Regions from separate parts of the Homo sapiens genome. Here all the other regions are linked to region 2. The links come from fine-mapping of genetic effects on gene expression. A gene starts in region 2. Each other region holds a variant in brackets. All regions are shown on one strand. Distances are from middle to middle. Region 1 has its middle 15 kb from the start of LINC02897. Region 2 holds the start of ZNF124 (zinc finger protein 124). Region 3 has its middle 26 kb from the start of LINC02897.

Region 1 (10,538 bases), 46 kb before region 2:
AGGTTCTAGCAATTCTCCTCCCTCAGCCTCCCGAGTAGCTGGGACTACAGGTGCCTGCTGCCATACCCGGCTAATTTTTTGTACTTTAGTAGAGACGGGGTTTCACCATGTTGCCCAGGCTAGTCTTGAACTCCTGAGCTCAGGCAATCCACCTGCCTTGGCCTCCCAAAGTGCTGGGATTACAGGCGTGAGCCACGGTGCCCAGTGACCCAGAGTTTTCTCTGTTGTAGCATGACAAATATAAGGATAGCTGATATACTTAATACTCATTTTTATTGTGTGAGTCAAATGAGTTATTGCATCTAAAGGAAACCAGTGAAGCATGCCATTTGACTTTGGATTATTTCAAGACAGCACACTGAGCCCACATCCACTGTTTCATTAATATTTAGATAGGACAGAAAAGCAAATGTTGATAAGAACAAATACTACACCACTTAATAAATAATGAATGGTATGAATAATGGAAATTTGATGAATCAGATGAATCAGTACTTATTTAGTTCATACAATGTGTTAGTCATTATTCTAAGTGATTTATACCTATACACTTAATACCTAATCGTTTAACATGTATAACACAATGATTTATGGAGAATGACACATTGATAATCATATTAGGTGGCATTAAAACCATAGAAATAAAAATGTTCTGGTATATAACACAAATGAACACAGGAAAGTTAAATAACTTGATTAAAAAGTGTGACTTCAATAGCAAAGACATGGATTCAACCTAAATTCCCACCAACAGTGAAGTGGATAAATGCCCATCAACAGTGAAGTGGATAAAGAAAATGTGGTACATTTCTTTACCATGGAATACTATGCAGCCATAAAAAAGTGAGGTCTCCCTATGTGTCCTAGGCACTGGAGTGCAGTAGCTATTCACAGGCACACTTCAGCCTCAAACTCGTGGGCTCAAGCAATCCTCCCACCTCAGCCTCCCAGATAGCTGAGATTTCGGGTGTATGTCGCCATGCCTAGCCCTGGGAGTTTTGCAGTAACACCCATTGAAGTGCACAAGGCGATGACCTTTATGTCAGATCTTTCAAAATAGTTCAAGTAACAACGGTCATCCCCAGTTATGTTCTCATGTGTTTCACGGTGCTACAGAGAGATGTTTCTGCTGATGGTGGCCACGTGGTTGAGTTCTGATCAATGAGACTTAGAAAGAAGTGCCTGGGGAGAATGGACTTCTGTAAATTAAAAAGCAATGGCTTCCAACCTAATTCCCCATGACCTATCAGCTTACTATTTCCTCCTGGTTGCTGTTTGGAATGTGGTTTGATGCCTGGAGGTGGGACAGCCAACTTGGACCATGAAGGAATAAGCATGAACACAATAACTAAGCATAGACAATGTCAGAGAGAGAACATGAAAACAAACTTGTATCTCATAAGATCACTGGACTATTTCATCAATCATGGGCTGCTACCTCTTCAACAGTGTACATGAGACACAATACACATATTATGTTCTTTTTTTTTTTTTCTGAGACGGAGTCTCGCTCTGTCACGCAGGCTGGAGTACAGTGGCGCGATCTCGGCTCACTGCAATCTCCGCCTCCCGGGTTCATGCCATTCTCCTGCCTCAGCCTCCTGAGTAGCTGGGACCGCAGGCATCCACCACCACGCCCGGCTACTTTTTGTATTTTTAGTAGAGATGGGGTTTCACCGTGTTAGCCAGGATGGTCTCGATCTCCTGACCTTGTGATCTGCCCGCCTCGGCCTCCCAAAGTGCTGGGATTACAGGCGTGAGCCACTGCGCCCGGCCTACGTGAGCCGTTTTTTGTTAATAGCTTTATTGGGATCACACACGTATCGAACATTGGTTTCCTAAATTAGCAAATCGACCATTTCCTCAGGTTATTCCAAGTTCTTCCAAGATGCGTCAGAAGCATTCTCTGGAGGCAGTTGTTCCAAATGGTGAAGAGTACTAGATGGATCCCAATCTCACAGGATTCTTGCTTCTATTGCAGAAGAGTTACTTTCCAGGACTTCAAAGGTTTAGAGAAGCTGCTTGATTCGTGTGGCTTGCAGAGGTGCATGGGCTTTGGAGTCACGAAGTTAATCCTGAGTCCCAGCCCAGCCTCTTAGTAGCTGTGAGGCTTTGCACAACTTCCTTGTCTTGGAAAGTTATATAAACCTCATCTGCAAGAAAAGGCATGATACTGATTGCAAAAATGGCAGCAACTCTTCATCCCTTCCTGTATTTATGCCCTTTGTGATGTGCTTTTAGCTGGGACTACAGGCACCCGCCACCACGCCCGGCTAATTTTTTGTATTTTTAGTAGAGACGGGGTTTCACCGTGTTAGCCAGGATGGTCTTGATCTCCTGACCTCATGATCCGCCCGCCTCGGCCTCCCAAAGTGCTGGGATTACAGGCGTGAGCCACTGCGCCCGGCCTACGTGAGCCATTTTTTGTTAATAGCTTTATTGGGATCACACACGTAAAATTTAGCCATTTAAAATGAATGATTTTGTGGCTTTTTTTTTTTTTGAGACAGAGTCTCGCTCTGTCGCCCAGGCTGGAGTGCAAAGGTGTGATCTTGGCTCACTGCAACCTCCACCTCCCAGGTTCAAGCGATTCTCCTGCCTAAGTCTCCTGCGTAGCTGGGATTACAGGTGCAGGCCACCACATGTGGCTAATTTTGTATTTTTAGTAGAGACAGCGTTTCACCATGTTGGCCAGGATGGTCTTAAACTCCTGACCTTGTGATCTACCCGCCGCGGCTTCCCAAAGTGCTGGGATTACAGGCGTGAGCCACCACGCCCGGCTCTGATTCTGTGGCTTTTAGTACATCCACAGAGTTGCCCAACCATCATCACAGTCAATTTGAGATGATCACCCCATAAAGAAATTCTGCATCCTGTAGCAGCCAACTCCTTTCCCCCCAGCCTATGCAACTTTCTGTCTAATCTACTAATCTACTTTCTGTCTCTATTTGCCAATTCTGGACATTTCATATAAAAATAAAATCACGCAATATGTGGGGTTTGTGTGTGTGTGTATGTGGCTTCTTTTACTTAGCCAAATACTTTCAAGGTTCATTCATGTTGTAGTATGTATCAGCATTTCATTCCTTTTGTTTTAGAGACAGGGTCTCGCTCTGTCACCCAGGCTGCAGTGCAGTGGTGTGATCATGGCTTACTGCATCCTCGACCTCCCCAGGCTCAGGTGATCCTCCCACCTCAGCCTCCCAATAGCTGGGACTACAGGCACACACCGCCATGCCCGGCTATTTTTTTATTTTTTTGCATTTTTAGTACAGACGAGCTCTCATCATGTTTCCCAGGCTGGCAACTCCTGGGCTCAAGTGATCCACCTGCCTACGCCTCCCAAAGTGCTGGGATTACAGGCATGAGCCACAGCGCCCGGCCTTCATTCCTTCTTATGGGTGAATAAGATTTCATTGCAAGGATAGACCACATTTTATCCTCTGACGGACACTGGAGACTTTTTCACACATTGGCTGTTACGAATGCTGCTGCTGTGAACATTTGTGTACTAGCTTTTTTGTGGATGTTTTAATTTCTCTTGTGTATCTGTACCTGGGGGTGGAGTTTTTGGGTCAAATGGTACCTCTATGTTTGAATTTTAGAGGGGTTGCCAGACTGTTTTCCAGAGTGGCTGCGCCATTATGCAATCCCACCAGCAGGGTGTGAGGGTTCCAATTTCTCCGTATCTTCACCGACACCTGTTTTTGTCTTTTTTTTTTTTTTTTTTTTTTTTTTTTTTTTGAGGCAGAGTTTCCTCTTTCGCCCAGGCTGGAGATCTCCACTGACTGCAACCTCTGCCTTCCCGTTTCAAGGGATTCTCCTGCCTCAGCATCCTGAGTAGCTGGGATTACAGGCGTCTGCCATCACACCCGGCTAAATTTTGCATTTTTAGTAGAGACGGGGTTTCACCACATTCGCCAGGCTGGTCTCCAACTCCTGACCTCGTGATCGGCGCCGGCGCCGATTAAAGGCGCCACCGCACCCAGCCATCTGTTTATTTATTTCATTTTAGTCATCCTACTGGGAATGCAGTGGTATCTCATTGAGTTTTTGGTAACAACTTTATTGAGAGAGGATTCAAACAGCATAGAATTCACCCATTTAAACTACATGCAGCAATGTGGCTGGATCTCATATTAATTAGTCCAAGTAAAATAATCCAGATAAAAGTAAGGACATTTGAATAAAAGCTATTTTCACTGGGGAAAAAAAGTAAATATTGTACAATTGTATTCATATAAAATTCTAGAAAATGTAATAGTCCAGGCACAGTGGCTCACACCTATAATTCCAGCACTTTGGGAGGCTGAGGTGGGCGGATCATGAGGTCAGAAGTTCGAGACCAGCCTGACCAACATGGTGAAACCCGTCTCTACTAAAGATACAAAAATTATTATTATATTGTACCCTATTTTAAATATCATATATATTATTCACAAATGAATGTAACATTGTATACAAGGTTAAGTGTATATAAATGAATGTCCCCTAGGCAAGGCTGGGTCCCAACCCAGAGAGGAAACCCTCTTGGAGAAGAGCTGTAGCCAGAACGCTGCCTCATTCAGACACGCGCGGGAGCTGTCACCTGTCACTAAGAGTCTGAGGGGGCGGGGCCTGAGGCCCTACCCAATCAGGGGCACCGGGGCGGGGACTGCCTAATCCGGCGCTCCGCTAGAAAACCCGAGGCGGCTTCCGGGTGTGCCCGGCCTTTGTCTCTCGTGCCCGCACGTGCGTGTCTCGGTCAGTAGCCCTGCGCTTCTCCTTCACTCTCGGCGGTTCAGGAGGCTCTGCCGCAGCCGGGGCCCTCCTGTGACCTGCATGTACTGGGGGATTCGCAGGGAGGATGTCGGGACACCCCGGAAGCTGGGAAATGGTGAGTTGCGCCGCCGGGGGTCTGGAGAAGGGAAGGGGCTGTGGCGGCCCCGGGCCCCGGGCTCCCAGCGGTCGGCTCCCGAGGGCGGACCCGGGTCCCTGCTGGCGCGGCGCGGCGCGGCCCTCGGTCCTTTCTGGCGCCCGGCAGAGCTGGGCGGGCAGCGGCACCCCGGGCTCCGGTCCCGTCTCTGCACCGCGACTTCCGTCCTGCCCGAAGCAGCTTCCCTCCCCGGCCCGCGCCCGCAGCCCCGCGGCTCCTCGGGATCCTGCAGTGAGACCCGAGGCGCCTCAGGGGAGAGGCCCAGCGCGGTGTGCGGGCTCGCGCCTGCGAGGAGCTGTGGCCACTGGCGTTTCCAGTCCCTCCTTAATCCTGTTAAAAATTAAACTGAGGTTTAATTAAAGCGTTACAGAGTTTGAGCAAACAGCGATTCATGAGTAGGGGAGCACCCAGCCACGGTTTTTGGTTTGTGGGCCACCGGACGGTCTTGATGGAAAGGCTTCTGTAAAGTGTGTAAGGAAACAAACCAAATTTATTTATTTTTTATTTTAATGATCGGGTGGGGCGGGGGGGGGGTCTCCCTGTGTTGCCCAGGCTGGTCTTGAACTTCTGGTCTCAACCTCCCGAAGTGCTGGGATTACCCCGCCCAGCCCAAAGCAACCCCAATTTAATAACTGATTGGTTATAATTATGTAGTTCTGTTATTCGGATTATTTAGGTGGATGGTTCCTGGTTATGTAATCAGAGGTAAATTGCTGATTTGGGGTTAAGTTTTCTTTCCCTTCAAGTTAATTACAAGAAAGGCATGAAGTACCTTTAGGTTTTCTTGGTGAGGAACTCAGGGCACCATCATCACTTAAGGGAGGAGACCACCCCTCATATTGTCTTATGCCCAATTTCTGCCTCCAAAGAAAGAAGAAGTAAAAACTAAAAGGCAGAAATGAAATCCACAGGCAGACAGCCCGGCGCCGCGTCCTGGGCCTGGTTACAGATTGACCCTTGACCTGACCGGTTGTGTTATCTATAGATTCCAGACATTGTATGGAAAAGCACTGTGAAAATCCCTGTCCTGTTCTGTTCCGTTCTGATTGCCGGTGCATGCAGCCCCCAGTCACGTACCCCCTGCTTGCTCAATCGATCACGACCCTCTCACGCGGACCCCCTTAGAGCTGTAAGCCCTTAAAAGAGACAGGAATTGCTCACTTGGGGAGCTCGGTTTTTTGGAGACGTGAGTCTTGCCAAAGCTTCCGGCAGAATGAAGCCCTTCCTTCTTTAACTCGGTGTCTGAGGGGTTTTGTCTGCAGCTTGTCCTGCTACAACTTCAGTCTAATTTCTTCCTATTTAATTATTTCCACAAGGGTACTGGTTTCCCCTGCATTTTCCAAATGTAAGGCAAGCAGGGTCTCAAATCCATGACCGTATTCCCCAGCCTAACTCTTCTAGAACTTGCAGTAAAATTCTGAATTTCCAGTTTCTTCCTCGTACTCTCAAACTCCAACTTCCCCTTTCCAATTTACAACATTATTATTTGTTCTTTATTGTGCATTTGAACCAGATGCAGTATTGTAATTGTTTATCATGTTTTCACTGAGCAGTGAGGAGCTGTTTCTGAACATTCCTTGTGAAAACAGAGAATAATCACCTGATCTAGTCCACTATAAAAAATTCTTTGTACCTCTCCTCCTTTTGTCTTCC[C/T]TAGGCACACTCACAAACGTCTTTGGATGGAGGTTTCCCTTTGGAACCTTCACGTGGTGTTGTGTCCTCAGCCACCCTCCTGTCTTTTCTGGGTCCTGGGTTCAAAACTGTTTGAGGATGACCTAATGTGCCCACACTGGCCCTGTCTCTTGGAGTGTCATAAATAGTGAATGTCAGCTGTTGGGTCCTCTTCTCCCAGAAGACAAGGTGAGGTTTAGGGGTGGAGCCTCTCAGAGGAGCAGCTGGATGGCATGAATCCCCTGGGACCGAGAGGAGTCTCCTGGGATACTCTTCTATACTCTTCCTCTAAAAAGCTAATCCACTAGGACTTAGATTTTTTTTTTTCTCTTACCCCCGTTATCACTCCTTAGAGACAAAATGCTGGTCAGGCAGTCGGATACTGGTATTGAGGGAAGAAAGAATTTCTGCCCTCTGGATTGTCTCATGCTTGTGAAGGGAGAACAGCTATTCCAAAGTACAAGGAAACCCCGCCCCGCAGTGAGGCAGGAACCTGAAAAGCAAAATGCATTTGGGGCACAGTGGGGACACGGCGCAGTTTTCTGGGGGAGGGTGGGCATTGAGTACTTCCCCCAGCAGGATGGGGTGGGAGGATTCAGGAGATGAGAGGGAGGGTGGACATTGAGTACTTCCCCCAGCAGGATGGGGTGGGAGGATTCAGGAGATGAGAGGGAGGGTGGACATTGAGTACTTCCCCGAGCAGGATGGGGTGGGAGGATCAGGAGATGAGAGGGAGGGTGGACATTGAGTACTTCCCCCAGCAGGATGGGGTGGGAGGATTCAGGAGATGAGAGGGAGGGTGGACATTGAGTACTTCCCCCAGCAGGATGGGGTGGGAGGATTCAGGAGATGAGAGGGAGGGTGGGCATTGAGTACTTCCCCCAGCAGGATGGGGTGGGAGGATTCAGGAGATGAGAGGGAGGGTGGACATTGAGTACTTCCCCCAGCAGGATGGGGTGGGAGGATTCAGGAGATGAGAGGGAGGGTGGACATTGAGTACTTCCCCCAGCAGGATGGGGTGGGAGGATTCAGGAGATGAGAGGGAGGGTGGGCATTGAGTACTTCCCCCAGCAGGATGGGGTGGGAGGATTCAGGAGATGAGAGGGAGGGTGGACATTGAGTACTTCCCCCAGCAGGATGGGGTGGGAGGATTCAGGAGATGAGAGGGAGGGTGGGCATTGAGTACTTCCCCCAGCAGGATGGGGTGGGAGGATTCAGGAGATGAGAGGGAGGGTGGACATTGAGTACTTCCCCGAGCAGGATGGGGTGGGAGGATTCAGGAGATGAGAGGGAGGGTGGACATTGAGTACTTCCCCGAGCAGGATGGGGTGGGAGGATTCAGGAGATGAGAGGGAGGGTGGACATTGAGTACTTCCCCCAGCAGGATGGGGTGGGAGGATTCAGGAGATGAGAGGGAGGGTGGACATTGAGTACTTCCCCGAGCAGGATGGGGTGGGAGGATTCAGGAGATGAGAGGGAGGGTGGACATTGAGTACTTCCCCCAGCAGGATGGGGTGGGAGGATTCAGGAGATGAGAGGGAGGGTGGACATTGAGTACTTCCCCGAGCAGGATGGGGTGGGAGGATTCAGGAGATGAGAGGGAGGGTGGACATTGAGTACTTCCCCCAGCAGGATGGGGTGGGAGGATTCAGGAGATGAGAGGGAGGGTGGACATTGAGTACTTCCCCGAGCAGGATGGGGTGGGAGGATTCAGGAGATGGGATGGTCTGACTTGACCCTTGAGTCAGCCATGTCCGTGCTCGTCAGTACTGCTACTCGTTTGTCACCTTGAAAATACTTGTTCACTTATTTTAACTTCAGTTTTTCGCTGATTGAAAAATACATTTTATCAGTACAGCTTGAGAGATAATATTTTCAAAAGGCCAAGAAAGAGGTGTATATCAGAAAAATATTAGATATCTAGTCATATATTTCATTTGTTAAAAATTCTTAAATGGCTTTTTTCTTGCCCAGAGGGAGTGTAGTAAGTTTCACAGGTTTGTTCTTTTCTGGGGGTGGTTTCAACCCGAATTCCAGGGCTTAGCTTTGGGAATGCTACCAGGGAAAAATAGGGACACTGTCTTCCATTATGGCTGCAGAAAAATACGTTTTCACAAGAAAGTATACTCACTAACAGAAGCTCACTAAAGCATCAGTTCCACCTTTGTGCCGAGCGGAGATTCTGTGACAGTGGATGACTCTGTTTCCTGTTACCTGGATGTCCAAGTTTAATGGCAAATCTGTGGGTGGGGACTTGGCATTTTTAGATGTGTTAACATCGAAATAATTTCTTTATGAAATAATATGTTATCATGTAAATAATTACATGACTTGTTTATTGTATGAAAGGAATACTTCTGCTTTCCCTGTTGAGGTATGAAATGTAAGTGCCTTGCAATTTTATTCCCTCCAACATACATAAAAGCAGAGTTTGAGTGATTTTGCTGGACTCTTCAAACACTGAGTATTTTTTCATTTGAAACAAAGTGGGGGCCAAGCGCGGTGGCTCACGCCTGTAATCCCAGCACTTTGGGAGGCCGAGGTGGGCAGATCATGAGGTCAGGAGTTCAAGACCAGCCTGACCAACATGGTGAAACCTATCTCTACTAAAGATACGAAAAATTAGCTGGGCGTGGTGGCGTATGCCTGTAATCCCAGCTACTCGGGAGGCTGAGGCAGGAGAATCGCTTGAACCCAGGAGGTGGAGATTGCAGTGAGCTGAGATTATGCCATTGCACCCCAACCTGGGCGACAATCAAAACAAAACAAACAAACTAAAAAACTCATAATAAGCATGTGAATCCTTCACCAGCAACCAGGTTCTCTCATCAAAATTGACTAGAAGGATGGTGTGACCCATGGAGAGAAGGAAGAACAGTGTGGTGCTGCGGCCCACCTGAGAGCCAGGCGGGGAAGGGGAGCCTCCTCCTCCAGCCCAGGGAGGCAGTGAGTGAGTGCGCTACCCAGCTGGGGAAACTGCTATTTCCATGGAGCTGTGCAACCCACGGATTGGAAGATCCCACTCGCAAACCCACGCCACCGAGGCCTGCCGTCCCAACCCTGGAACGCCCAGATTCTTACAGCCTTTCAGCTGGAATCTACTTAAGCCTACCCAACTCCCAGGGGGAGGGGCAACCAGCACTGGCCGTGGCTGCCTGCTGTCTAAGCCATTTGAGTTCCTTGGGGAGGGGCAGCAGCCAGTACTGGGACTCCAACTGCCTAACGTGCTAAGCTCCCTGGACGGGAGGAGGTTGGCACCCATTTCTATAGCTCCAGGCTGCACTTTTCCCCTGCTTTAGCCAGGGAGGCTGTACAGCTAGGTCCCAAGACCTGTCCCTACAGCCCAATACACCGGCTGTGGCAGTTTGCAGCCAGAGTGCCTCTTCAGGCCTAATCCCTTCTTCATTGGGTGGGGCTTCCCTGGAGGGTCTCCAATAACTCCAGCCAGATGCTCAGGGACAGAATTTGGATCTCCCTAGGCCTGAGCCCCTAGGGGGAGGGGTGGCCGCAGTCTCTGCTGACCAGCAGACTTAGCCTCTCCTCCTGGTAGTTCTGAGGAATCTTGGCAGCCTAGGTGAGTGGGTTTCCCCCCAGTGAAGCACACCCTCTCCACCAAGGGACAAAGTCTTTCATTAAACGGGTCCTTTTCCCTGTGCCACCCAACTGGGTGAGACCCTCCAACAGGGGTTGTCAGACACCCTATTCAGGAGTGATGCTACTGGCATCCGGTTGGTGTCCCTTGAGGTAAGAAGTCCCAGAAGGAGGAGCAGGCACCCATCTTTGCTCTTCTCTAGCCTCCTTGAGTGGCATCTCCAGGCATGGGAGTGAATCAGATGAATACGCCTGAAGTGAACCCCCAGCAAACTGAGGCAGCCCTACAGAAGAGGGACCTGACTACTTAAAGAAAAACAAGCAAGCAGAAACTGACAACAGTGTCAACAACAACAACAAA
Region 2 (10,538 bases):
CCACACTTTTGTGTGTGGAAATGTATTCACTTTCTGTAATCATAAAGGAAGAGAGATTTTTCCTATTTCTCTTCCCTGGTAGCATTCCTGATTAAAAGCCCTAGAATTTCATTTGAAACTACCCAAAAGAAGAGACGAGACCTCAAAAAGTTACCACATACACTCAGGGGAATGAAAATAAAATATATCAAAAAAACTCTTCTAAACATTGGCTTGGGCAAAGAACTCATGACCAAGAACCCAAAAGCAAATGCACAAAAACAAAAATGAACAAATGGCACCTAATTAAATTAAAAAGCTTCTGCACAACAAAAGAAATAATCAGCAGAGTAAACAGACAACCCACAGAGTGGGAGAAAATCTTCACCAACTATGCATCCTACAAAGGACTAATATCCAGAATTCACAAAAAACTCAAATCAGCAAGAAAAAATTCCATCAAAAAAGTAGGCAAAGGACATGAATAGTTCTCAAAAGAAGATATACAAATAGCCAATAAATATGAAAAAATGCTCAACATCACTATCAGGGAAATGCAAATTAAAACCATAATGAGATACCACCTTACTCCTGTAAGAATGGCCATAATCATAAAATAAAAAACAATAGATGCTGGGATGCTGGTGTGGATGTGGTGAACAGGGAACACTTCTACACTGCTGATGGGAGTGTCAACTAGTACAACCGCCATGGAAAACAGTATGAAGATTCCTTAAAGAACTAAAAGTAGAACTACCATTCAATCCAGCAATGCCACTACTGGGTATGTACCCAAAGGAAAAGAAGTCATTATATGAAAAAAACACGGCTGGGCGTGGTGGCTCATGCCTGCAATCCCAGCACTTTGGGAGGCTGAGGCAGGTGGATAACCTGACATCAGGAGTTCGATACCAGCCTGGCCAACATGGCAAAACCCTGTCTCTACTAAAAATACAAAAAAAATTTAGCTGGGCGTGATGGTGCATGCCTGTAGTCCCAGCTACTTGGGAGGCTAAGGCATGAGAATCCCTTGAACCCAGGCGACGGAAGGTTGTAGTGAGCCAAGATCGTGCCACTGCACTACAGCCTGGGTAACAGAGTGAGACTCTGTCTCAATTAAAAAACAAACAAACAAAAACACTTGCACACGCATGTTAACAGTAGCACAATTTGCCACTGCAAAAATATGAAACAAACCTAAAATGCCCATCAACCAATGAGGGGATAAAGAAAATGTGGTGGAATACTACTCAGCCATAAAAAGGAATGAAATAATGGGCTTTGCAGCAACTTGGATGGAAATGGAGGCATTATTCTAAGTGAAGTAACTCAGGAATGGAAAACCAAATATTCTATGTTCTCACTTATAAGTGGGAGCTAAGCTATGAGGTTACAAAGGCATAAGAATGATATAATGGACCTTGGTGATTTGGGGGCAAGGGTGGGAGGGGGTGAGACTGCATATTGGGTACAGCGTACACTGATAAGGTGACAGGACCAAAATCTCAGCAATCACCACTAGAGAGCTTATCCTTGTAACCAAAAACCACCTGCTACCCCAAATGTATTGATATAACATTAAAAATTTTTTTAATTAAAAAACTAAATATATATATAAAGTGGATTTAAAATATCTACATATATTTAAAATATCCACTTCTTTCTTTGCCTCTTTGTAAATATTTTATCTTTAAAGCTCTATTGATGAAATACATTTTATGTTTACCTAAGGCACCAATAAATGAACAAAGCTTTGCAAGAGGACAGCCCAGGGAGGAGCAGCGCTAACTGGAACACAGATATGTTTGACTCACATGTCAAGTAAGACCATCTCTCAAGCAGGAGATTCCCTGGTCCCCGGTCTCCTCATTGGAGAGACCACGTACTCAAGGACCAACCTCCCAGCGCAATGCACTGTGGCCCACTGTGTGCCTAAGGTGCAGTTTGCTTGGCAGGTTTTTGTGTCATCTTCCTGGGAAGAAATTTTCTTGTTCTTTAAGGTTGTTTTTCTCCCTTCACAAGTGTGAAAGAATCCAGAGGGCAGGAATCATTTCTGTCTCTCCCTCAAAATACCAGCATTGGATTGGATGACACCAGTGTCTCTCCCAGTGTCCCCACTGTGTCCTCCCACCCCATCCTGCTCAGGGAAGTACTCAATGCCCACCCTCCCCCAGAAACCTGTGCCGTGTCCCCACTGTGCCCCAAATGCATTTTGCTTTTCAGGTTCCTGCCTCACTGCGGGGCGGGGTTTCCTTGTACTTTGGAATAGCTGTTCTCCCTTCACAAGCATGAGACAATCCAGAGGGCAGAAATTCTTTCTTCCCTCAATACCAGTATCCGACTGCCTGACCAGCATTTTGTCTCTAAGGAGTGATAACGGGGGTAAGAGAAGAAAAAAAAATCTAAGTCCTAGTGGATTAGCTTTTTAGAGGAAGAGTATAGAAGAGTATCCCAGGAGACTCCTCTCGGTCCCAGGGGATTCATGCCATCCAGCTGCTCCTCTGAGAGGCTCCACCCCTAAACCTCACCTTGTCTTCTGGGAGAAGAGGACCCAACAGCTGACATTCACTATTTATGACACTCCAAGAGACAGGGCCAGTGTGGGCACATTAGGTCATCCTCAAACAGTTTTGAACCCAGGACCCAGAAAAGACAGGAGGGTGGCTGAGGACACAACACCACGTGAAGGTTCCAAAGGGAAACCTCCATCCAAAGACGTTTGTGAGTGTGCCTAGGGAAGACAAAAGGAGGAGAGGTACAAAGAATTTTTTATAGTGGACTAGATCAGGTGATTATTCTCTGTTTTCACAAGGAATGTTCAGAAACAGCTCCTCACTGCTCAGTGAAAACATGATAAACAATTACATTACTGCATCTGGTTCAAATGCACAATAAAGAACAAATAATTAATAATGTTGTAAATTGGAGAGGTGAAGTTGGAGTTTGAGAGTATGAGGAAGAAACTGGAAATTTAGAATTTTACTGCAAGTTCTAGAAGTTAGGCTGGGGAATACGGTCATGGATTTGAGACCCTGCTTGCCTTACATTTGGGAAATGCAGGGGAAACCAGTACCCTTGTGGAAATAATTAAATAGGAAGAAATTAGACTGAAGTTGTAGCAGGGCAAGCTGCAGACAAAACCCCTCAGACACCGAGTTAAAGAAGGAAGGGCTTCATTCTGCCGGAAGCTTTGGCAAGACTCACGTCTCCAAAAACCCAGCTCCCCAAGTGAGCAATTCCTGTCCCTTTTAAGGGCTTACAACTCTAAGGGGGTCCACGTGAGAGGGTCGTGATCGATTGACCAAGCAGGGGGTACATAACTGGGGGCTGCATGCACCGGCAATCAGAACGGAACAGAACAGGACAGGGATTTTCACAGTGCTTTTCCATACAATGTCTGGAATCTATAGATAACACAACCGGTCAGGTCAAGGGTCAATCTGTAACCAGGCCCAGGACGCGGCGCCGGGCTGTCTGCCTGTGGATTTCATTTCTGCCTTTTAGTTTTTACTTCTTCTTTCTTTGGAGGCAGAAATTGGGCATAAGACAATATGAGGGGTGGTCTCCTCCCTTAAGTGATGATGGTGCCCTGAGTTCCTCACCAAGAAAACCTAAAGGTACTTCATGCCTTTCTTGTAATTAACTTGAAGGGAAAGAAAACTTAACCCCAAATCAGCAATTTACCTCTGATTACATAACCAGGAACCATCCACCTAAATAATCCGAATAACAGAACTACATAATTATAACCAATCAGTTATTAAATTGGGGTTGCTTTGGGCTGGGCGGGGTAATCCCAGCACTTCGGGAGGTTGAGACCAGAAGTTCAAGACCAGCCTGGGCAACACAGGGAGACCCCCCCCCCGCCCCACCCGATCATTAAAATAAAAAATAAATAAATTTGGTTTGTTTCCTTACACACTTTACAGAAGCCTTTCCATCAAGACCGTCCGGTGGCCCACAAACCAAAAACCGTGGCTGGGTGCTCCCCTACTCATGAATCGCTGTTTGCTCAAACTCTGTAACGCTTTAATTAAACCTCAGTTTAATTTTTAACAGGATTAAGGAGGGACTGGAAACGCCAGTGGCCACAGCTCCTCGCAGGCGCGAGCCCGCACACCGCGCTGGGCCTCTCCCCTGAGGCGCCTCGGGTCTCACTGCAGGATCCCGAGGAGCCGCGGGGCTGCGGGCGCGGGCCGGGGAGGGAAGCTGCTTCGGGCAGGACGGAAGTCGCGGTGCAGAGACGGGACCGGAGCCCGGGGTGCCGCTGCCCGCCCAGCTCTGCCGGGCGCCAGAAAGGACCGAGGGCCGCGCCGCGCCGCGCCAGCAGGGACCCGGGTCCGCCCTCGGGAGCCGACCGCTGGGAGCCCGGGGCCCGGGGCCGCCACAGCCCCTTCCCTTCTCCAGACCCCCGGCGGCGCAACTCACCATTTCCCAGCTTCCGGGGTGTCCCGACATCCTCCCTGCGAATCCCCCAGTACATGCAGGTCACAGGAGGGCCCCGGCTGCGGCAGAGCCTCCTGAACCGCCGAGAGTGAAGGAGAAGCGCAGGGCTACTGACCGAGACACGCACGTGCGGGCACGAGAGACAAAGGCCGGGCACACCCGGAAGCCGCCTCGGGTTTTCTAGCGGAGCGCCGGATTAGGCAGTCCCCGCCCCGGTGCCCCTGATTGGGTAGGGCCTCAGGCCCCGCCCCCTCAGACTCTTAGTGACAGGTGACAGCTCCCGCGCGTGTCTGAATGAGGCAGCGTTCTGGCTACAGCTCTTCTCCAAGAGGGTTTCCTCTCTGGGTTGGGACCCAGCCTTGCCTAGGGGACATTCATTTATATACACTTAACCTTGTATACAATGTTACATTCATTTGTGAATAATATATATGATATTTAAAATAGGAAACAATATAATAATAATTCTTTTAAAATTTCAGACTTATTAACCTTCATGGCCTCTGGTCTTCTGAGGAAGCAGTCTGAGGAGCCCGAGTTTTGAAAAGGGAAGCAATCCTCCAAGGCTGCGATTTCCACAGAAATCACATGTGAGCCACAGGTGTCATTTTAAAATTTCTAGTAGCAACAGAAACGAGGAATAAACAGGTAAAATTGATTGCAATACTTTATTTAACTCAATATATACAAAATATTATAATTTAAATATATGATAAATATAATATTAATGAAGTATTTTTTGTTGTTCTGTTTTTTGGTACTAAATCTTTCAAAGTCACTCTGCGTTTTAAACTTCCAGCATGTACCGATTCAGACCAGCCACATTCTAGGTGCTAAGTAGACCCCTGTGGGCAATGACTGTCACACTGAAGTGCAGTTTTGAGGGCTCTGGTTCCCCTGACCTCAGGGAGTGAAGGGCCCGAACCCCTCTTTTCTGCTAGAGGTGAGGGAATGCCCTCCTTCTGCTAACATCTCTCCTCAGGCCCAAGGGTGGCAGAGACAGTGCCCAGAGAGAGAAGTGGGCTGCAATAAAGAAGTATCTAGAGGGAGTCTACTATTTCCCACCTGCTCTTGCCAGGGGCCCAGCCTCTTCTATAGATAAGACAGTGAAAAAAAGATGAGGGGCCCCAGGAGAAGAAAACCCATGTCTTCAGATTTGTCCACAGCCTTAACCTCAGGACTTTAGATGTAGAGGGAATACATTAAAGACAAACTTCTCATTTTGCAATTTGGCTTTGGCCCTAATGGTCAGGCTGTGGTTTTCTGTTTCCTCCTGTGGTGTGGAATTTAAGTGTGTGAGTTTAAGCACAAATCACATGCATGTCTACGTGCACTTCTGTATGGCTCAACACCGTCTAACCAGAAATCCAACTTTACATAAAGGGAAAAGGAAATCAGTACATACAGGGTGCCTTGTGTTTGCCTGGTAAATTGCAATCAACATGTCATTGAATCCTGGCATCCTGTCTGCACTAGGTGTACGTATTACCTATTGCTTCACAGTAAAATTCCCCAAAACGTATTAGATTGAGCTGGTCCACCTTCTAGGCTGGGCTCAAGTGAGCCATTCTTCTGGTCTCTGCTGGGCCCTTTCAGGCACGTGTGGTCAGCTGCTGGTTGACTAGGCAATGCTGCTTCTGAGGGTGAGCTGCCTGTCAACTGTGGCACTTTGGTTTTCCTCCCTATAGTATCTCATCCTCTAGCAGGCTAACATGGACTTGTTATTATGGAGATGACAGGGTTGTGAAATAAAAAGCAGAAGCATTCAAGAGCTTTTGTGCCTCGGCCCCAAACTGGCACATGGTCATATTCACAGCTTTCTACTGCCAGAGCAAATAAGGCCAGTGAGATTCAAGGTTTGGGAAACAGATTCTGCCTCTCAATGAAAGCAGCTATAAAAGCACATCACAAAGGGCATAAATACAGGAAGGGATGAAGAGTTGCTGCCATTTTTGCAATCAGTATCATGCCTTTTCTTGCAGATGAGGTTTATATAACTTTCCAAGACAAGGAAGTTGTGCAAAGCCTCACAGCTACTAAGAGGCTGGGCTGGGACCAGGATTAACTTTTCGTGACTCCAAAGCCCATGCACCTCTGCAAGCCACACGAATCAAGCAGCTTCTCTAAACCTTTGAAGTCCTGGAAAGTAACTCTTCTGCAATAGAAGCAAGAATCCTGTGAGATTGGGATCCATCTAGTACTCTTCACCATTTGGAACAACTGCCTCCAGAGAATGCTTCTGACACATCTTGGAAGAACGTGGAATAACTTGAGGAAATGGTCGATTTGCTAATTTAGGAAACCAATGTTCGATATTACATATTTTTTATTTCTTTTCATAGGATAAATTTAAAAGCACAGATGACGCACTCCACATGAACGCAAATCCTATTCATCCCTTTTTGTTGTTTGTAGGCTATTTATGATTTTCAACAAAGACTAAATCAAACCACTGTGTCTGAAATAACCTCTTACTCTGAAAGCAAGTGACATGAAAATAGACCTGCTGAGAAAAATTTCTTCCTGCTGCAATTTAACGAAACAGCTGACTACAATTTGAAGCCATTCTTTGATTTTTTTTTTTTTTTTTTTTTTTAAGATGGAGTCTCGCTGTGTCATCCAGGCTGGAGTGCAGTGGTGTGATCTCGGCTCACTGCAAGCTCCGCCTCCCGGGTTCACGCCATTCTCCTGCCTCAGCCTCCCGAGTAGCTGGGACTACAGGCGCCGGCCACCATGCCCGGCTAATTTTTTTGTATTTTTAGTAGAGATGGGGTTTCATCGTGTTAGTCAGGATGGTCTCCATCTCCTGACCTCGTGATCAGCCCGCCTCGGCCTCCCAAAGTGCTGGGATTACAGGCGTGAGCCACCGTGCCCGGCCCATCCTTTGATTTTTAACAAGGCAAGCTTGTTTTCCAAGACCTCAAATAGATCATGTGAGTGTCAGGGCTACTATATTGACTCAGAAGGTGGACCATATCCTCTGTTTGGAGATGGAGTGGTGAGAGGGCCTGCACCAGCATGTGAAGACCTTAGGTCCATAGGTGAGATTCAATCATCAGGTGTGGTGTTTTAGGGTCCTGATGTTTATGCAAAAGTTATGTGTATATTACTAAAGGTAAATTGTAGAACATTACAAATAATCATATATAAACCAAAAATGTCAACTACAATTGTCATTATGCATTATTATTCTAAGTATTTTTACCACAATTAGAAGTAGTAGCAGTTGTTGCTGCTGCCGCTGCTGTTGTAGGAATGGAGATGAAAACATGGAATAAAGCTCTGCTGCCTGGTCATTCTGCTGCTCCTACGGCTGCAGATGTGCTAGTTCTGCGCAGACTTTAGACTTCTGTTGTGAAGCTGTAACTTAAGAGACTTTCAGTGCTCTGCTGTGGCAGGAAAAAAGTTTGAGTCAAGACAGAACAACAATTCTGTGAATTTGAAGGTGGAGGGTAGGATGGTTCTGGGGCGCAGTTGAAGGGGAAGAAGTACACATCACTGAATGAAGGAGTGGAAGCCTATGGTGAATGGCAGGGTTTGGCCATGAAGCAAATCAGATTTGGATTTTACGGACGGTCACTCAGTGAAACTGACACACCTGCAAAGCGGGAAATGGAGGACGAATAAACAGGTGATGTGTTCCAGCAGCAGACAGGAGGGCCTTCTAAGAACACACCTGCTCCTTTACCCAGGACCTCTTCCTACAACTCCAGCAGACATTCTCATGTAGAAACCCACAATGTGATTTCATCACATTCTGACTCCACATTCTGACACCACATTCTGACTCCACATTCTGGCTGGTACAGTATCCTTTTCTCCATTCTCTTATCTTCCCCTTCCTCATTTCATTATTGCACATAAAGCATCTGGGGTAGGCACACAAGCATATTGCTATTTTTGTTTGCTTGTTTGTACTAAATGACATGTGTTGATCCGCAGCCAAATGAGACGGGGCAGAAAAATACTGGCCCCGTGAAGACTGTTTCTCCACCAGTGGCTGCTCACTCAGCTCTTATCTCTGTATTTCAGGACTTAAACAACAATAACAAAAAACCATAATACCCTTGCATAGATTGTTCAATTGGTGAATTTCAATGTTTTTAATATAGCATTGTAAAACCAAAAACAATTTCATAACTTTTTTATCTACGTAGTTGTTACACATAGGGCAAATCTGTATATAGGACTATGTATATAGGACTATATATATACGCGTGTGTGTATGTGTATATATATATAGTCCTATATATAGCATATAGCATATATATTTATATATGTATCTATACTATATACATATGTATGCATGTATACTATATACATATGTATGCATATATACATATATACTATATATACACATATATAGTATATATACACTACATATATACTATACACTACATATATACATTACTATATATGCTATATATATACACTATATATATAATATATATAAACCTATGTATATAGGACTAAATGACACTTGAAAGAATGAATCTCAAATACTTTTCCCTTCAAATCCACTGTCTGTTTAAGTATACATTTTGCATATAATGAAAAAATACATAAAAATTAAAATGTAAGGTTTATCTCACTATCCAGTGTATCAGTTGGACCAAAAATGAGGAAAAAGAGGCATCTTGTCTGCAGGAAGTTCTCAATTCTCCTGGGACCCCCGAACCACCTGCGCCCCCCAAGCAGACCCCGTTCTTGGCCTGTTGCCAGTGGCAGTGCATCCTGATGAGGCTTCCACGTCTTGGCCCAGGAGGCACAGGGAGGGTAGGAGGTTGTCTGTCTCACAGCCAGGCCAATATCCCTGACCCAGGACCCTCTGGAAGAAGATTCCCAAGGTCCCCGTCAGCTTTTGGAAGGGTTATGCCATTCTAGAGAAATTATAAATGTTCTTGGGGGTTGACCCATAGGTGAGCTGGGCATCCCTGTGCTCTTGGGAGCTGGAGCAGGCAGGAGGCCCATCCTCCTGGGCACAGCCGCCATGGCTGCAGACCCAGGCATCTCTGCACTCTGGAGGGCTCAGGAAGGTTCCCCCACCCCCACAGGCTTGGAAGTGCTCGCTCCCACTGTCTGGCTTCTCCTCACTCTTGGCATCCACTCCAATCACAGAGAAAAGGGGAGTCTGGGCCCACGCACCTATCAACCCATCACCTAGGTATTAAGCCCAGCATGCATTAGCCATCTCCTCTTTGACTTTTAACATGAAATTCTCATGATCATTTTATGTTATCAATGACCAGTCATAGGTTTTAAAATGCTGGCTGTTACTTGTGTATAATAACAATGACATTTTTATTAATAAAACAAAACACGGGATACTTTTTTTTCAAAGAACACATTAATTGCATGTAAAATTGCTTGTGGATTTGTGTAAATGGTTTTTCATTCTAGTACACTCCTCTTTTCTTCAGAGGTGTCGATTAAGCTCAAGACTTTATAATCAGTCTTTCGTTTCTTGTTCATTCAATGGTAAATTTTTCCCATCATTATTCATAATTATGTAAATACCTGGGACTTACAATATTTAGAATAGTCCGAGGTGAAAGCCAACATAAGGATGAACTTGATCTGCATTATCTGTTTCCTGAGAGGGCTCGGGAGCTTCACCCTCAGCCCCAGCCACCCATGGCTGTCACTTCTCACAGTGAGGGCTGAGATGTGCATTTAGATTGATCAGTTTTTAATGTATCAGGTAGGACCCAATAGTCCTTTGCACTCTGACCCACCTACAGATAAGCTCTCTGATTATGTTCTTCTATATTGTTTCTCCCAGGTCAGTACCATATTATTGTAAATCCTGTGATTCATAGTGAAGTTGCCAGATTCATCAAGTAAAAAATAGGACAGAAAATTAACTTTAAAATTTAAATAAACGACAAATGACTTTTGAGTGCACAAATATGTCTTTGTCAATGATCAGTAGTTAGATTCTGAGAGATAAATTTCCAAAAGGAATAATGAAAATAATATACTTTAGCTGTCAATTCTAATCCACAGTATTGTGATCCTTCCTTGTGCAGTCTCAACACCAATGACCTCAAGAGACTTGTTAGAGAGAGACTCCATCTGATGATTCAGCAGATAAAGTATTTTTCAGCATGTGA
Region 3 (10,538 bases), 35 kb before region 2:
GCAGACCCCCTTAGAGTTGTGAGCCCTTAAAAGGGACGGAATTGCTCACTCAGGGAGCTTGGCTTTTGAGACGCAAGTCTGCTGAAGTTCCCAGCTGAATAAAGCTCCTTCCCTCTTTAACCCGGTGTCTGAGGAGTTTTGTCTGTGGCTCCTCCTGCTACAAAAGGAATTGCTAACTAGAATAACCAGTTTAGAGAAGAACACAAATGACCTGGTGGACCTGAAAAACACAGCATGAGAACTTCATGAAGCACACACAAGTATCAACAGCTGAATTGACCAAGTGGAAGAAAGGATATCAGAGTGTGAAGACCACCTTACTGAAATAAGACATTCAGAAAAGATGAAGACTGCCTTACTGAAATAAGACATGCAGACAAGAAGAGAGAAAAAAAAATGAAAAAGAATTAACAAAGCCTCCAAGGAATAAGGGACTTCATAAAAAGACTGAACTTATGATTGACTGGAGTACCAGCAGGAGACAGGGAGAATGGAAACAAACTGGAAAACACACTTCAGGATATTAGCCAGGAGAACTTCCCCAACCTAGCAAGACAGGCCAACATGCAAATTCAGGAAATACAGAGAACACCATTAAGATACTCCTCAAGAAGAACAACCCCAAGACACATAATCAGCAAATTCTCCAAGGTCAAAATGAAGGAAATACTGTTAAGGGCAGCCAGATAGAATGGCCAGGTCACCTACAAAGGGAAGCCCATCAGACTAACGGTAGACATCTCAGCAGAAACTACAAGCCAGAAGAGATAGGGAGCCAATATTCAATCAATATTCAATATTCTTTTTTTTTTTTTTTTTTGAGATGGAGTCTCACTCTGTCACCCAGGCTGGGGTGCAGTGGTGCGATCTCAGCTCACTGCAACCTCCACCTCCCAGGTTCAAGCGATTCTCCCACCTCAGCCTCCCAAGTAGCGGGGATTACAGGCATGCACCACCATGCCCGGCAAGTTTTTTGTGTTTAGTAGAGACAGGGTTTCATCATGTTAGTCAGGCTGGCCTCAAACTCCTGACCTCAGGTGACCCACCCACCTCGGCCTCCTAAAGTGCTGGGATTATAGGCATGAGCCACGGCGCCCAGCCTCAACATTCTTAAAGGAAAGAATTTTCAACTCAGAATTTCATATTCAGCCAAACTAAGTTTCATAAGTGAAGGAGAAATAAAATCCTTTCCAGACAAATGCTGAAGGATTTCGTTACTACCAGGCCCGTGCTGCAAGAGCTCCTGAAAGAAGCACTAAATACGGAAAGAAAAAACTGGTACCAGCCACTGCAAAAACACACCAAAATATAAAGACCAATGACACTATGAAGAAACTGCATCAACTAATGGGCAAAATAACAAAATAGCATCACGACAACAGGATCAAATTCACACATAATAATAATAACCTTAAATGTAAATGGGCTAAAAGCCCCAATTAAAAGACTTGGACTGGCAAATTGGATAACGAGTCAAGACTCATCAGTGTGCTGTATTCAGGAGACCTATCTTATGTGCAAAGACACACATAGGTTCAATATAAAGGGATGAAGGAATATTTACCAAGCAAATGTAAAGCAAAAAAAAGGCAGGGATTGCAATCCTAGTCTCTGACAAAACAGACTTGAAACCAACAAAGATCAAAAAAGACAAAAAAGGGCACTGCATAATGGTAAAGGGAACTATTCAACAGGAAGAGCTAACTATTCTAAATATATATGCACCCAATACAGGAGCACCCAGATGCATAAAACAAGTTCTTACAGACCTACAAAGGGAATTACACTCCTGTGTAATAATAGTATGAGATTTTAACACCCCACTGTCAGTATTAGATCAATGAGACAGAAAATTAGCAAGGATATCCAGGACTTGAACTCAGCTCTGGATCAAGTGACCTAGTAGATGTCTAAAGAACTCTCTACCACAAATCAATAGAATATACATTCTTCTCAGTGCCACATGGCACTTATTCTCAAATCAACCACATAATTGGAAGTAAGACACTTCTTAGCAAATGCAAATGAACTGAAATCATAATAGTCTCTCGGACCACAGTGCAATCAAATTAGAACTCAGGATTAAGAAACTCACTCCAAACCACACGATTTCATGGAAATCAAAAAACCTGCTCCTGAATGACTGCTAGGTAAATAATAAAATTAAAGCAGAAATCAAGAAGTTCTTTGAAACCAATGAGAACAAAGAGACAATGTACCAGAATCTCTGGGACACAGCTAAAACAATGTTAAGAGGAAAAATCATAGTACTAAATGCCTACATCAGAAAGCTAGAAGCAAGAGCAAACTATTCCAAAAGCTAGCAGAAGACAAGAAAGAACTAAGATAAGAACTGAAGAAGACAGAGACACAAAAAACCCTCCAAAAAAATCAACAAACCCAGGAGCTGGTTATTTGAAATAATTAACAAAATAGACCACTAGCTAGACTAATAAGAGAGAGAAGAATCAAAAAGATACAATAAAAAATGATAAAGGGAGTTATCACCACTGACCCCACAGAAATAAAAACTACCATCAGAGAATACTATAAACACTCAATGCAAATAAACTAGAAAATCTAGAAGAAATGGATAAATTCTTGGACTCCTACCAAGACTAACCCAGGAAGACGTCACATCCCTAAGTAGACCAATAACAAGCTCTGAAATTGAGGCAGTAATTAATAGCCTACCAATCAAAAAAAGCCCAGGACCAGATGGATTCACAGCAGAATTTTACCAGAAATACAAAGAGGAGCAGATACCATTCCTTCTGAAACTATTCCAAACAATTGAAAAGGAAGGACTCCTCCCTAACTCGTTTTATAAGGCTAGCATCATCCTGATACCAAAACCTGGCAGAGACACAACAAAAAAAGAAGACTTCAGGCCAATAACCCTGATGAACGTCAATGCAAAAATCCTCAAGAAAATACTGGCAAACTGAATCCAGCAGTACATCAAAAAACTTATTCACCACGATCAAGTTAGCTTCATTACTGGGATGCATGGCTGGTTTAACATGCAAATCAATAAACATAATCCATCAGATAAAGAGAACCAAAGACAAACACCACATGATTCTCTCAATATATGAAGTAAAGGCCTTCAATAAAATTCAACATCCTCTCATGTTAAAAACTCTCAATCAACGAGGTATTGATGGAACATATCTCAAAATAATAAGAGCTATTTATGACAACCCCACAGCCAATATCATACTAAATAGTCAAAAGCTGGAAGTATTCCCTTTGGAAACTGGTATAAGACAAGGATGACCTCTCTCACCACTCCTAAGTTCTGGCCAGGACAATCAGGCAAGAGAAATAAAAGGGTATTAAAATAGGAAGAGAGGAAGTCTGTTTGTAGATGACATAATTTTATATTTGAAAAACCCCATCATCTCAGCCCCAAAACGTTTTGAACTGATAAGCAACTTCAGCAAAGTCTCAGGATACAAAATCCCTGTGCAAAAATCACAAGCATTTGGTTACACCAATAGGCAAGCAGAGAGTCAAATCATGAATGAACTCCCATTCACAATCACTACAAAGAGAATAAAATACCTAGGAGTACAGCTAACAAGGGATGTAAAGGACCTCTTCAAGGAGAACTACAAACCAC[T/C]GCTCAAGGAAGTAAGAGAGGACACAAACAAATGGAAAAAATTCCATCTTCATGGATAGGAATAATCAGTATCACAAAAATGGCCACACTGCCCAAAGTAATTTACAGATTCAGTGCTATTCCCATCAAACTACCATTGACATTCTTCACAGAATTAGCAAAAACTATTTAAAATTTCATGTGAAATTGGCCAGGCACAGTGGCTCATGCTTGTAATCCCAGCACTTTAGGAGGCCAAGGCGGGTATATCACTTGAGGTCAGGAGCTTGAGACCAGCTTGGCCAACATGGTGAAATTCCATCTCTACTAAAAATACAAAAATTAGCCAGGCGTGGTGGTGTGCACCTATAATCCTTGCTGCTGGGGAGGCTGAGGCAAGAGAATCACTTGATCCCAGGAGTTGGAAGTTGCAGTAAGCCAAGATCATGCCACCGCACTCTAGCCTGGGCAACAGAGTCAGACCCATCTCAAAAAAAAAAAAAAATTATATGGAGTCAAAGAAGACCCAATATACCCAAGACAATCCTAAGCAAAAAGAACAAAGCTGGAGGCATCATGCTACCTGACTTCAAACTATACTACAAGGCTACAGCAGCCAAAATAGCATGCTACTGGTACCAAAACAGATATATAGACCAACGGAGCAGAACAGAGACCTCAGAAATACCACCACACATCTAAAACCATCTGATCCTCGACAAACCTGACAAAAACAAGCAATGAAGAAAGGATCTCTGATTCAGTAAATGGTGCTAGGAAAACTAGCCAGCCATATGCAGAAAATGGAAACTGGACTGCTTCCTTATACCAAAATTAACTCAAGATGGGTTGAAGATTTAAATGTAAAATCCAAAACCATAAAAACCCTAGGAGAAAACCTAGGGAGGCCAGGTGCAGTGGCTCGTGCCTGTAATCCCAGCAGTTTGGGAGGCCAAGGTGGGTGGATCATGAGGTTAGGCATTCGAGATCAGCCTGGCCAACATAGCGAAACCCTGTCTCTACTAAAAATACAAAAAAAAAAAAAAAAAAAAAAAGAAAGAAAACCTAGGGAATATCACTCAGGACATAGGCGTGGGCAACTTCATGGCAAAAATGCCGACAGCAATTGCAACAAAAGCAAAAACTGACAAATTGGATCTAATTAAACTAAAGAGCTTATGCACAGCAAAAGAAACTGTCCTCAGAGTGAACAGGCAACCTACAAAATGGGAGAAAATTTCTGGAATCTATCCATCTGACAAAGGTCTAATATCCAGAATTTACAAGGAACTTAAATATATTTACAAGAAAAAACAAAAAACTCATCAAAAAGTGGGCAAGGGATATGAATAGACACTTCTCAAAAGAAGACATTTATGCATCTAACAAACACATGAACAAAAGCTCAACATCACTGATCATCAGAGAAATGCAAATCAAAACAATGAGATACCATCTCATGCCAGTCAGAATGGTGATTATTAAAAAGTCAGGAAACAATAGATGTTGGTGAGGCTGTGGGGAAATAGGAACGCTTTTACACTGTTGGTGGGAATGTAAATTAGTTCAACCATTGTGGAAGACAGTGTGGCGATTCTTCAAGGATCTAGAACCAGAAATACCATTTGACTCAGCAATCCCATTACTGGGTATATACCCAAAGGAATATAAATCATTCTACTATAAAGACACGTGCACACGTATGTTTATTGCAACATTATTTACAACAGCAAAGACATGGAACCAACCCAAATGCCCATCAATGATAGACTGGATAAAGAAAATGTGGTGTATATATATATGTGTATATATATACCATAGAACACTATGTAGACATAAAAAGGAATGAGATCATGTGCTTTGCAGGGACATGGATGAAGCTGGAAGTCATCATCCTCAGCAAACACAGGAACAGAAAACTAAACACTGCACGTTCTCACTCATAAGTGAGAGCTGAACATTGAGAACACATGGAAACAGAGGGGGAACAACACACACCAGGGGCTGTTGGGGGTTGGGGGGTGAGGGGAGGGAACTTAGAGGACAGGTCAATAGGTGCAGCAAACCACCGCGGCACATGTATACCCATGTAACAAACTCACATGTTCTACACGTATCCCGTTTTCGTTTGTTTTAGAAGAAATAAAACATAAAAATTCTGGACTAATTTAAAATGAACAATTCTCCGATCAATCACATGGCAATTCCTTGCCCCAAGAGTGCAGAGAAAGAAAGGTACATACATAGACCCAAAACTTACTAGAGTAGAAACCCATAAGCACATCTTCATGAACCAGTACATCTGTAGGAAAATTGAAAGTGTAATTGGCAAATTGTTTAAAGCTGAGTGTGAACATGATTGACAGTAACAAATAACTGGAAATGTCAAGCTGGGAACTGCTTAGGGCAAACCTGCCTTCCGTTCTACTCAAAGTTAACCCTCTGCTCACTGAGATCAATGCATATCTGACTGCCTCATTTTGGAGAGGCTAGTCAGAAACTCAAAAGAATGCAACCATTGTCTCTTATCTACCGATGACCTGAAAGCTCCCTCCCGACTTCAAGTTGTCCTGCTTTTGCTTTGAGTTGTCCTGCCTTTCTGGACTGAACCGATGTTCATCTTACATATGTTAATTGATGTCTCATGTCTCCCTAAAATGTGTAAAACCAAGCTGTGCTCCGATCACCCTGGGCACATGTTGTCAGGACCTCCTGGGGTTGTGTCATGGATGCGTGTCCTCAACCTTAGCAAAATAAACTTTCTAAATTACTGAGACCCATCTCAAATTTTCACGGTTCACACCACTATGTAATACCCTTGTTGTTTTAAATCTTTATTGGTTTAAATCTGTTTTGTCAGAAACTAGGATTGTAACCCCTGCTTTTCTGTTTTCCATTTGCTTGGCAGATTTTTCTCCATCTCTTTATTTTGATCCTAGGTCACTGCATGGGTCTCTTGAAGGCAACATACCATCAGGTCTTGCCTTCTTATGGAGCTTGCCATTGTGCGCCTTTTAAGCAGGGCATTTAGCCTGTTTACATTCAAGATTAGTATTAATATGTGTGGATTTGATCCTGTCATGTTGTTAGCTGGTTATTATGCTGACTTGTTTGTGTGGTTGCTTTATAGTGTCACTGATCTGTGTATTTAAGTGTGTTTTTGTATTGGCTGGTAGCAGATTTTTCTTTCTATATTTAGTGCTCCTTTCAAGATCTCTCATAAGGCAGGTCTGGTGGTAATGAACTCCCTCAGCATTTGCTTGTCTGAAAAGGATCTTATTTCCCTTTCACTTAGGAAGCTTAGTTTGGCTGGGTATGAAATTCTTGGTTGAAGATTTTTTTCTTTAAGAATGTTGAATATAGGCCCTGAGTCTTTTCTGGCTTATAGGGTTTCAGCTGAGAGGTCTGCTGTTAGCCTGATGGGGTGACCTTTGTAGGTGACCTGCCCTGTATAGCTGCCTTTAACAGTCTTTCTTTTATTTTGACCATGGAAAATCTGATTATTGTGTGTCTTGGGGATGATTTTATTGTGTAGAATCTTGCAGGGGTTCTCTGGTTTCCCTGAATGTGACTGCTGGCCTCTCTACCAAGGTTGGGGAAGTTTTCGTGGATGATATCCTAGAATGTTTTCCAACTTGTTTGCTTTCTTCCCATCCCTTTCAGGGATGCCAATAATTCATAGATTTGGCCACTTTACAAAATACCATATTGCTCAGAAGTTTTGTTATTTTTTATTCTTTTTAATTTTTCTGACTGTCTTATTTCAGAGAGCCAGTCTTCATGTTCTGAGAGTCTTTCCTCCACTTGGTCTATTCTGCTGTTAATACTTGTGACTGCATTATGAAATTCTTGTAGTGTGTTTTTCTGCTCTGTCAGAACCATCAGGCTCTTTTTTATATCAGTTATCTTGTCTTTCAGCTCCAGTGATTCTTAGTTTTTTTGGATTGGGTTTTGCATTTTCCTGAATCTTGATGATCTTAATTCCTATCCATATTCTAAATTCCATTTGTCATTCCAGCCAGCTCAGCCTGAGTAAGAACCCTTGTTGAAAAACTGGTGTGGTCATCTGGAGGACATACAACACTCTGGCCATTTGAGTTACTGGAGTTCTTTCATTGGTTCTTTCTCATGTCTGCAGGTGGGTGTTCCTGTAACTGCAGTGTAGATTGAGTACAGTCAGTACACTTTTTTTTCTGGATGTCTTCGCAGAGCCAAGGCTTTGTGCAGGGTCTTCATTTGTAGCTGACTTGTCTTTGGTCTCACAGAGGGGAATGCTAGCAAGGTGTTTTTGGTGTTGGAACTTCGGGATGTGATCCAGTAGGTGGTGCTTAGGCATACTGGTTAGTTGGTAGGCTCTTGCTTGGTCATGTGGCTCCCCTATATTTTCTGACAGTTGCAGTCATGCTCCCTCTCAATGTTCTGAAAGTGTGGGCTTCTCTCCCACTTGAATGCTGGCTATAAATTGTGGCTTGGCACTCTTGGGCTGCCCACCACAGCTCTGGGGCACTCTCAGGGCTTATGTTCCTCCCCTGGCTTGGAGGCAGCAGAGGAAGGGACCTTAATAGTGGTTGTGGCCAAAGGTCTTTTGCTTGTCTCCTGGGGGCTCCACCCAAGAGGAGCCGGTTAGCAATTGCTAAGTGCAATCAGCCCAGAACGGAGGGTCTGTGCTGTGGGACCAAGCCCAGGGTTTCCTATCTGGTGACAAGCAGGGGGAGTGGGTGGAACCTGTGGGAGATGAACTGGTCTCCTCTCCTTGGGTCAACTGCAGTTTGTTGTAGGTGTGGATAAGGCACTTATGGTATTTGTTCATTCATTTGTCTGAGGATAGCAAGGGCAGTTCCACTGCAGACAGCGGTAGCAAGGCTTTTGTTTGCTCCTGGGGGCTCCACCTCCAAGAAATGCAGAACCATAGTTACTGGGGGTGTTCAGCTGGTGGGTGGGGCACCTGCACTGCTGGCATAAGCTTGGGGTTCTGCTTGTTGGGGAGCAATGGGATGAAGGCTCACAGGGAGAAAAGACTAGTCTCTCGGTATGGTGGCTGTGGTGGTATGCTGTTAAGCTTGGGTGTAGCTCTCAGGTTCTTTGTTTCTTCCCCAGACCAAAGGCAGCAGGGATAGAACTATTACTGTGGCAATGGCAGAGGGGCTGTCATATGCCTCTGGGAGCCTCTCCATGGGGAAACTCTGGGCCACTACTGGTGGGTATGCTCAGCCATGGGAGAGGTGACTGTTCTGTGTTCATGAGCTGGGGGCCCTACAGCAGCAAAACTGAGAAGACCTGTGATGCCTGCCATAGTGGATCCCCAAGGGTCCGCACTGGGTGCAGCAAGCAGCCCATATCTCAGTCCCCAGGAGACCACCTGCTGCCAGTTCTGAAAAGCCTGGTGACCTCTATGGTAAGTCTGAGGCCATTTATCAAGACCTAGTTCAGACACAAGCACAGTAGGTCCATTCTCTGCTGACCTGGGAGCAGCTCTCTTAGCTTGCCAGCTCTGGGGGCCTCTGTGCTGCAGTGCAGAACTTCTACACCATGGACTCCCAGGTGGCCTGGGTTCCCTGCTGAGGGCTGGGAATCTCAGCCACCCTGACTTGTGCCAGGGTCCAGCCCTGGCTGGAGAAGTCCAGAGCTCCTTCTGGGAGAAAGATAGGACCAGCCCTTTTTTGGACCAAAGGTAACTCAGCCTATCTATAGATGAGATGAAGCTTGACCTGGGGGTCTCCTGACCCTATTCAGCAAAGAAAACAGGTCTGGGAGTGAAAACAAAGACTTGCTGCTTCTCAGATTCTTCTGGATGACCAGCAGTGACAACTTTAGACACACCATGTTAATAACAGAACCTGTGGTGGTTGTAGAAAAGGAATTTGAACAATATACTGAAAATGGTAAACCCAGTTTTCTTTAAGGCTGATTACTGACAAATTTTGTATTTCATATAAGACATCTGATGTCTTTTGGCTGTCTTATGACAGTCATGCATTTCTGTAAATCAGAAAATATTATTAGGGTGTAATCATTCATATATGTTTGTATATTAAAAAGAGTAGCAAAATGAATATATATTTATATCTTCCCCACTTGAACTCAGAAAAGGCTGTAGCTCTTCACTCTCCCAGGCCGAGTCCTCAGAAGATTGATATTCACCAACCTTTAATAGCATTCTCTCTGGAGAAATGCTTCTATTTTTTCAGTTTGATGAAATCACCATGCCATTGTTTTTACTTTTCATTTTCTTACACAGAATCTAAGACAAGGTATATTAAATGCTTAATGATCCTATTCTTCACCTGGCTCATATCATTTACCTAATTTTAAACTTTCTTCTACTCTAAAAATTTCAATTCATCTTATGTATTGTAGAAGATTTTAAATCTAATACAGGTATTGTCTTTTTTTTTTTTTACATATATTCTATTGGCATTTTACACTGGGATCATGGAATATTTCATTATGTAAATTATTTAATTTTTATGTAGAAAAAAGAAAATTATTTTGGTGTTTGTTTTGTTCTTTGCTCTATAATTTCCATTACATACTGATTAGATAATTTTTTGAGTATTTTAAATTTTAGGTAATTATGCATTTTATCCATAAAGAATCTGCATGTGAGAGAGAGAGCTATTTTCTCCTCACTTCTATTTCATCTCCATCCTGACCTCCCCAGAATCCTCAGCTCTTTGTGTAGTTGGATAGCAGTTTATAATTCCAGTAAATGGGCCTAATTCAATAATATACCACAAATCAGTTTGAAACCAGGACATGCCTTCAAGACACACCCAAATGCCTATATATATAATAATACTAAGTTACAATTGATGTAAAAAATAAAATTACAAAAGGATTGTTAAAGTAAATTCAAAGGGACATCAGGCCTAAAAAATCCCTGAGGAAATGTGTGATCAGAGGCTTTCCCAGGCACACACTGCTCTACAGCCCT

Evidence for each region. PIP is the estimated chance that this variant, and not a neighbour inherited with it, causes the effect. A credible set is the group of variants that fine-mapping cannot tell apart.
Region 1: its variant is the best candidate, but not a certain one, in a credible set for the expression of ZNF124 in putamen (Braineac2, PIP 0.84).
Region 3: its variant is the best candidate, but not a certain one, in a credible set for the expression of ZNF124 in visceral fat (GTEx, PIP 0.68).

Annotation. Positions count from the first base shown.
Region 1 is chr1:247,121,719-247,132,256 of GRCh38, forward strand. It overlaps a transcript of ZNF124 not described here. Among named protein-coding and RNA genes, the nearest start is that of LINC02897, 15 kb to the left of the region's middle. The variant C/T (reference allele first, on the strand shown) is at 6,569.
Region 2 is chr1:247,167,441-247,177,978 of GRCh38, forward strand. It overlaps ZNF124 (zinc finger protein 124), which reads right to left and starts at 4,580. Exons shown (of 4, transcript NM_001297568.2): 1 at 4,408-4,580. The coding sequence starts at 4,437. RefSeq lists a silencer at 8,047-8,341.
Region 3 is chr1:247,132,852-247,143,389 of GRCh38, forward strand. It overlaps a transcript of ZNF124 not described here. Among named protein-coding and RNA genes, the nearest start is that of LINC02897, 26 kb to the left of the region's middle. The variant T/C (reference allele first, on the strand shown) is at 3,626.